2 separate regions of the Homo sapiens genome follow, and region 2 is linked to region 1. The links come from fine-mapping of genetic effects on gene expression. Tissue or cell type: whole blood. Region 1 holds a variant in brackets; the other region holds the start of a gene. All regions are shown on one strand. Distances are between the middles of the regions.

The links. PIP is the estimated chance that this variant, and not a neighbour inherited with it, causes the effect.
Region 2: it holds the start of IREB2, and the variant in region 1 is fine-mapped to the expression of IREB2 in whole blood (TOPMed, PIP above 0.99).

The regions. Positions count from the first base shown.
Region 1 is chr15:78,487,669-78,491,930 of GRCh38, reverse strand. IREB2 (iron responsive element binding protein 2) reads right to left here. Exons shown (of 22, transcript NM_004136.4): 14 at 4,114-4,198; 15 at 3,595-3,751; 16 at 3,160-3,284; 17 at 1,405-1,509; 18 at 1,170-1,312. Among named protein-coding and RNA genes, the nearest start is that of HYKK, 18 kb to the left of the region's middle. The variant A/C (reference allele first, on the strand shown) is at 1,947.
Region 2 is chr15:78,436,563-78,440,562 of GRCh38, reverse strand. It overlaps IREB2 (iron responsive element binding protein 2), which reads right to left and starts at 2,347. Exons shown (of 22, transcript NM_004136.4): 1 at 2,207-2,347; 2 at 682-768. The coding sequence starts at 2,225. RefSeq lists a silencer at 1,893-2,132 and enhancers at 2,603-2,662, 2,733-2,812.

The DNA of each region.
Region 1 (4,262 bases):
GTATGTCACAATTATGATGAAGATGGAAATCACAACCAAAAAAATATTTACAGGAAAGGAAACTTATTTCTCACCACTTTATAATAAAAGCTGTGCAATATTATCACATGTCAACACAAGCTACATTGACATTTTGGCTGGGCACGGTTGCTCATGCCTGTAATCCCAGCAATTTGGGGGGCCGAGGTGGGCGGATCACTTGGTCAGGAGTTTGATACCAGCCTGACCAACATGGTGAAACCCTGTCTCTACTAAAAATATAAAAACTTGCTGGGCATGGTGGCGCGTGCCTGTAATCCCAGCTAGTTGGGAGGCTGAGGTAGGAGAATTGCTTGAACCCGGGATGCAGAGGTGGCAGTGAGCTGAGATCACACCACTGCACTCCAGCCTGGGTGACAGAGTGAGTCTGTCTCAAAAATAAATACATAAATAAATACATACATAAATAAATAAATTTCAATGAAAAAGCTTGTCATTTTAATTACTCAAGCATCAAACAAGCATCCAATAAGCTAATCAGGTAGCAGTACTACAAATCCTGCTTTTAACAAAACTTTGTCTCTATTGTCAAAACAGTCCTTTGATAACAGGGCAACTCTACATGATTAATCATGTAGAAATGAAATCTTACCAGTTTTAAATTTATATCTCCAATATAAATGGCCTTTACGTTTATTGTTCCTATAAAATTTTAGGCTCATGAAGCAGAAATTCATTGTCTTTTGATTTGTACATATCATTCCCAGCCTCACACACGTACATGTTATAGCCCATAAAATACACATTTAAATTCCTTACTCCAATAATGGGAAGCTGGTTTTAACCAAATGAGCAGGCTTCATTTGGTAGGTAAAACCAAGCTGACTTTTCAATAAAGTAGCACTGAAAAAGAAAAATCTTATTTCCAATCAGCTGTTTATTTAGACTATAAGGGCTCAATTTAAAATTGCAATTTCATTTTCTAAAGTCACAAGCAAAGACAAGTACAGAAGGTACCCCCCGCCTCCCCACCCCGCCACTCTCCATTCTTGCTTAAGACAAACACATTGGCAGTCAGATTACCTACGATAGCATGTATTTACTGGAAAAAAGGAACAAGACCAATAGAAGCCTCTTAATCAGTAAGAAACAAGAAAAAACAAAAACACTCTAAAGCCATGTACACATACCCTCTGTTTGTCAAATACTTAGCGGCAGCACTATTCCTAGCGATACTTCCTGCAGGTGATATATGATCTGTTGTGACAGAGTCTCCCAAATATAATAAGACATGGGCATTTTCAATAGCCTGGAGTGCAATTGGCTCTTTGGTCTAGAAGGTAAAAGTTCAAGGCATTTAACTCTTTACAAGACTTCTTAGTTTATAACAATCTTTAAAAGATCAAATAGTAAAACAGTACTTACAAGTTTATCAAAAAATGAAGGGCATCTGATATAAGTAGACTTTAAGTCCCATGGAAACAAAACTGAATCCGGTGCTTCTAAGGAATTCCACCGTTTATTCCCCATCTGTGAATACAGTTTTCGTTGATGAACCAAAGCAAAGATAAAAGGACTCAGAAAAAGAGGCGCATGAAAATGATCAAGGGAATAAAATAGTACTTAGGTCACAACAACAACAACAAAAATAGGCCTTATCCATTTGGAAAGAAAATTAAGAGTGTATTCTTTTCTTTTTTTTAAAAAATTTTAAATTTTTATTTTTGCCCAGGCTGGTCTTAAACTCCTGAGCTCAAGCGATACGTGGGCCTTGGCCTCCCTGAGGGTTGGGATTATAGGCATTAGCCACCATGCCCAGCCAAAACAGTGTGTTCTAAAAAATCATGATGTTTTTGGACAGAATGATTAAAAATTTGCTCCTCAAATTCTAGCATACCAGATGTTCAGGAACACTCCAAGGGGCAAGTTTCAATATAAACAGAACATAAAGACTTCACAGAGTCCAA[A/C]AAAGTTAAAGAATTTAGAAAGATTTCTATATGTTGCTACAGAGAGATTAAGCATGTATGAGGTATGCTGTTAATGTCTAAGAATGTTATAATGGAGAAAAACCTCTGCTTTTTCAATGTATTTGTTCCACATCAACGCCTTCAAACTACAGCCAAAAATCTCACCATTTCTTAGGCCAGGCACAGTGGCTCACGCCTGTAAACCCAACACTTTGGGAGGCTGAGGTGGGCGGATCACTTGAGTCCAGGAGTTTGAGACCAGCCTGAGCATTTTTTATTTTTTATTTTACAAAAAATAAAAAATTAGCTGGGCCTGATGGTGAGCGCCTGTGGCCCCAGCTACTCAGGAGGCTGAGGAGCAGGATTGCTTGAGTCCAGGAGGTTAAGGCTGCAGTGAGCTGCTTCAGGCCACTGCACTCCAGCCTGGGTGACAGAGTGGGGTGCCATCTCCCAAAAAACACCAAAAAATAAATAATAAAAAATAATAAATATTGCATAATTTAGCTAATTATTCTCTTTACAGCTTATTTGCCTCTCCCCAGGAGAATTTTGTGTTTTGTTCAATGATGTATTCTGAACACCTAATCAATTCTTTCTTTTCCCCCCTCAACTGTTATTTTAACTTCTGGGGTACATATGCGGGATGTGCAGGTTTGTTACATAGGTAAATGTGTGCCATGGTGGTTTGCTGCACAGATCATCCAATCAACACTAATGAATTCTGATCCTCTAAGACATTTTCTTTCTTTTTTTTTTTTTTTTGAGACAGAGTTGCACTCTTGTTGCCCAGGCTGGAGTGCAGTGGCGCGATCTCGGATCACCGCAACCTCCGCCTCCCAGGTTCAAGTGATTCTCCTGCCTCAGCCTCCTGAGTAGCTGGGATTACAGGCATGCGCCACCAAGCCTGGCTAATTGTTTTGTATTTTTAGTAGAGATGCGGTTTCTCCATGTTGGTCAGGCTGGTCTTGAGCTCCGGACCTCACGTGATCAACCTGCTTCAGCCTCCCAAAGTGTCGGGATTACAGGCGTGAGCCACTGTGCCCAGCCGCCATTTTCTTTTTAACTACAGATTCCAGATACAAACTTACTATTACACATTAAAAACTGTATTCAAAATAATGTAATTTTAATTTTTATTCTATTCAGAAGATATATGAAATAAAAGAACACTGCAAATTGATTAAACTATTTAAGAAACACATAAGACTCTTACTTCTATTTTATCTTTTAATGCTTTAAACATGGATAGTATAACATGTTCTTCCTCTACTCGATGAACTTCTTCTCGACTAGGCCAAATATCATGCAGGTAAATGTTCTTGCCGGTGGGGTCAGTACCTGGTTAAAATTTTTGAACATGATACTCAGTAAAAAAATAACTCTGAAAATGTTCATACCTTTTCAAAGACATATCATGGAAATCAAGTAAATGATTCAACAGGGTGCTTCAGGCTTAAGCGGCTGGAAGAACTAATTACCTGTACATTTTATTTTCTTCACATAAACACAGAAATTAATAACTATACATTATCATACGTCTTCCTGAAATAATTCAAAGAATAGATGGTCTAAGAAACATTTCAAAAATATAACGACTTCCATTGGGAAAAGTATGTGTAGGTATACATATACATAAAGGAAAAGATACCTAAAGGTTCTGTCTGGAAATCTATATTCACTGTGCCTGCTATGGCATAAGCTACCACTAAGGGTGGAGAGGCAAGATAATTGGCACGAACACAATCACAAAGACGACCTTCAAAATTTTTGTTTCCAGATAAAATTCCACAGGTAACCAAATCACCCTGAAAAAAACACAAACACACAAACAAATAAATTCAATTCTAGAGATGGTACAAATCTGGATAATCATATATAAGCAATCTTAAAGTCTGAGGGCGAGATTAACCAAAAAACATATTACTAATTTTTAAATATAGAACTATGCATCTTGCAAATAAACTAAATCAATTCCTTGTATTATGAAGGAATTATTTCAAGGATCTACAAATGATTCATTGAATCATTTAAAGATTCACAGGTTACTATTGCCAAGAGGTGCAGAGTTTACAGAAATATAAACACATCAATATATATTTTCTATAATTTAGTAACAAAACATAGTTAAGAAAATCATTTAGATGTCTTGCCAATCCACACATTTTACCTGTTTTACTGCATTTAAAACTGCGTCTGATAAGGGTGCTGTATTTCCCACACAAATTGAACATCCATAGCCAACGATTTCAAATCTGCATTTCAAAAAAAAAGTGACTGAATAGCACATCACAACATTTATAGAGAAAGGACAAGTCT
Region 2 (4,000 bases), 51 kb after region 1:
AGACCCCAACTCTACAAAAAATATAAAAATATGTTTTTATATAAATGTGTTGGCATACACCTGTAGGCCTTGTTACTTGGGAGGCAGAGGCAGGACTGCTTTAGCCCAGGAGTTCAAGGCTGTATGAGCTATGATCACAACACTGTGCTCTAGCCTGGGCAACAGAGCAAGACTCTGTCTCAAAAAAAAAAAGAAAAGAAAAGAGAAAATAAAATATACATTTAATTGGTGTAGAATTATCATCAGTCAGTCAGGTTCTTCTAAAAATCACATTAGGCCAGGCGCAGTAGCTTACATGTGTAATCCCAAAACTTGGGGAGGCAGAGGTGGGAGGATTATTTGGGCCCAGGGGTTCAAAACTAGCCTGGGTAACATAGCAAGACCCCTGTCTTCACAAAAACAAGAAAAAAAAAAGTTTGAAAACTGCATTATTGGTTTCTTTGAGGGGAAAAACTAGTGCTTAATTAACTTAGATTTTTAAATGAGAAGTTAAGGTGTGGGCCTACATCTTCCCTGAACAGAAGTTGTCCCAGGAGGAGTTTTTAAAATGGTATAGGTATGTGTAGGTGTACCTGTTACAATACGGTGGAAATACATTTAAAATTTCTTCAGCTCAGCTTGACAAATGCATTTTCATTATTAGAGACTAAACAAACCCAAGAAAATGTAAAGCAACATTACCATACTTGGTGCCAAGTTTAGATACATCGAAGAACTTCTTATGTGAACTGTCATTTAATGTTTCAATAAGGTACTCAAAGGCGTATCCTGAAAAAAAAATTGTATTTTCATTAAATGCAGCAACAAAATATTTTATTCAGCTGAAAATACCTGGAAACTAGCTTTATCCAATAGAATTTTCTGCAATGGTAAAAATATTCTATGTTTGAGCTGTCCAGTAAAGTAGCCATTAGCAACGTGTGGCTATTGAGCACCTGAAATGTGGCTATCGTGCCTGAGGAACTGAATTTTTAATTTATTTAATTTTGATTAATTTAAAGTCACACAGGGCTAGTATCCACCACACTGGAAAGCATAGTTCTAAACCATAATTTGTCAAGTAAAAACTAGTAAGATAATTCACTCCTGAAATGTGATAAGAATACCTGGAAAGGGACAATAAGAATGATTTAAATAATCCACGGGGACGTTTTGGAAAGACATGTCTTGAAAACTGCAGAGACAGGAATTTGTGAATTCCACAATTAACATTAGAGGGACTGATTAAAAAAAAAAACTAAAAGACGGATTTTTACAGAGCATTCAATAAACCAAAACAAAAAAACTTCTCAGTTAAGTCCTTACCAGGGCTTAGTACTGAAAATAAAAGTAACAGAATCTCTAGGAAATTAGCATATTCTACCCGAAAGAGACAAGTCTTCTGGTTTTGCACGAACTGAAGCTGAACTACTAAGTCAAAGATCCAGAGGTCTCATTTAAACGTGCCTCAGCTCCCAACATTCTAGGGGGCAGTGGCGGGGAGGCAGCCCTGAGGTTGAAAAGAACCTTCAGATCTTTTGTGCAGACTCATAGCGGTGGGTGGCCAGGACCCTCAACATTGTTAAGGCTTTCATCCAAAAGGAGAAAACATAAGCACAGCCCATTTTCAGAATGAATAGTATTTTTTTCTCTTTTTTTTTTTTTGTAGAGGGAGGTGGACGGGGGAGGAGACAGCGGTGCAATAAATGGTCGGAGAACTGACTGACCAATGTTCAACCTTGACTGCCCCTCATTCGGCTTCCAGAGGCACAGAGAGACTGAGGGGCCTTAGGCTGGACCGTGGAATCAACATCTAGCTGCGTGAGACCCGAACACGGAGACGCAGGCCCCCGCCTTCATCGCTCGCCAATGGGGGGCGGGCAGGAGAAGACGGTGGGCCTCTCCCTGCCCCTGGTGTTGCTGACGGGGGCCAGGAAGCCGCTGGCAGCAGGCAGCGGCCACCGGAGAGAGAGGGGTGCGGGTCAAGGCCAGCGGTGGGGTGGCCCGCCCTGCGGGTGTCGCGCAGGAGGGTGGGGATCGGGAGCCCCAGCTTCCGCGGCCTAGGCTCAAAGGGCGGCCCAGCAGGCAGGCCCCGAGGGGAGCACAACCCGAGCCCCGAGGGCCTGGGCGCCTGCCGAGCGACTCCAGGCGAGAAAAGCAAGGAATTCGGCGCCTAGGCAGCGCGCGTTTCCAACTGCCAGACCCAGCTCGGAGGCCCGAAACTGACCTGCTTTTGGGGCGTCCATCGCCGGAGACCATATTATCCCTCCGGGGAGGGGGCCAGCGGGGGAAGAAGGGGGAGGCCGGGCAGGGAAGACGGGGAGGAAGACAGGCGGACTGGCAAGGGAGGAAAGAAGGAAGCAGGCTCGCGCAAATATCGCGAGAGCAGCAGAGCCAGCCCCGGGTCTGCGCTCGCGGGATTTGTCGCCTAACTCCCGCGAGATCGTCGGACAGGAAAACAAAGAAAGGGAAGGGGCGGAGCTAACCAGAAAGCGATTTCTCGCGCCGTCGCCGCTGTTCTCGCGAGCGGGGGCGGAGCGCTGGGGAGGCTCCAGTGGGGGCGTTGGCGTGGCTAGTTTGGCCTTCGCAGCGATCCGTTACTTAGTTGCGGCCTTAAGTTTTCTATTGGGGTCATGAATTCGAGCGGTGTTTGCGTTCCCGCAAGGTGTCTGTTGGAGTCAGGGTCGGAATCGGAACTGCTAGGAGAAAGAGCTCAAGGAGAACCGCTTTCCCCTAACTATAAAGCCTTGCATTAACTTGTCAGACGTGGGCGGCCCACACGCGTGTTTTCAAGTGGGGGCGGCCATACTGATCGGGCGCGTGGGAGGCGCTCAACTGTTGAATGAATGAATTTTTTCTTACCCTCCGGTAGCTTCCGTGATTGCCGACTTCTTCCCAGTGGCAGTTAACACATGCTTAAGCCTCTCCATCCTTCCGCCTCAGCTCCTCCGGTCCCTGTGTTCTCCACCTACCCAGCATTATCTCCTGTCGCAGCAACTTACCAGAAAGAGTCGCTCATACTCGGCTCTCCCCCACCCACTTCTTATCCTCTTCCAGTCTGGCTTCCACTCCCAGAAATGCCTTTAGCCAAGGCCAGCTATAACTCCACTTTCTAATCTCACATATCTCAATCTTGACTGGTTCTCTCCCATTGTTGAAAAATACTCTTCCATCAGCTTCTGTGACTTCAGACTCTACTTTTGTTTCTTCTCCTAAGGGTGCTTGATCTCAGGCTCCTCTGCAGACCTCTTCCTCCGCCCAGCTTTTAAATGTACTGGGCACTTGATGGGCACAGTAGCTCATGCCTGTAATTCCAGCACTTTAGGAGGCCAAAGTGGGAGGATGGCTTGAGCTGAAAAGTTCAAGACCAAACACAGCAACGTAGTGAGACCCTATCTCTACAAAAAAAATTTAAAAATTAGCTGAGTGTGGTGGCATGCACCTGTAGTCTCAGCTACTCAGGAGGCTGAGGTGGGAGGATCACTTGGGCCCAGGAGATTGAGGCTGTGGTGAGCCATGATTGCACCACTGCACTCCAGCCTGAGCAACACAGCAAGACCCTGTCTCAAAAAAAAATATATTGGACATTAAATGTGTCCCAGGGCTCTGGCCTTGTACCTCCTCCCTCTGTCCATTTTCCCTGGCCCATCTCACACTTCCTTTGACTTCAGTTATTAGTTAATATGTTGATGCTTCCCAGTCTGCCTGTGACCTGAGCCTATCTCCTAAACCCGGAGGTGTATATCCTAGTACCCATGGGATGCCTCCACATCCCAAGGCACCTCAAACTAAAAATCTCCAAAACTGAACTCGTCATTTCCCTCCTTAAACCTACTATTCCTTTTGTATTGCCTGTATTAGCGAATGGCGCCACCATCCACCTGGTTGCCCAAGCCAGAAATCAACACATTATACCTGACTCCTTCATCCACTCCCTTTAATCATTGATCCAAGCCCTGTCAACCCAAACTCCAATATATTTCCTTTATTCACCTTGCTATATTTTGTAACATCTCCTTTA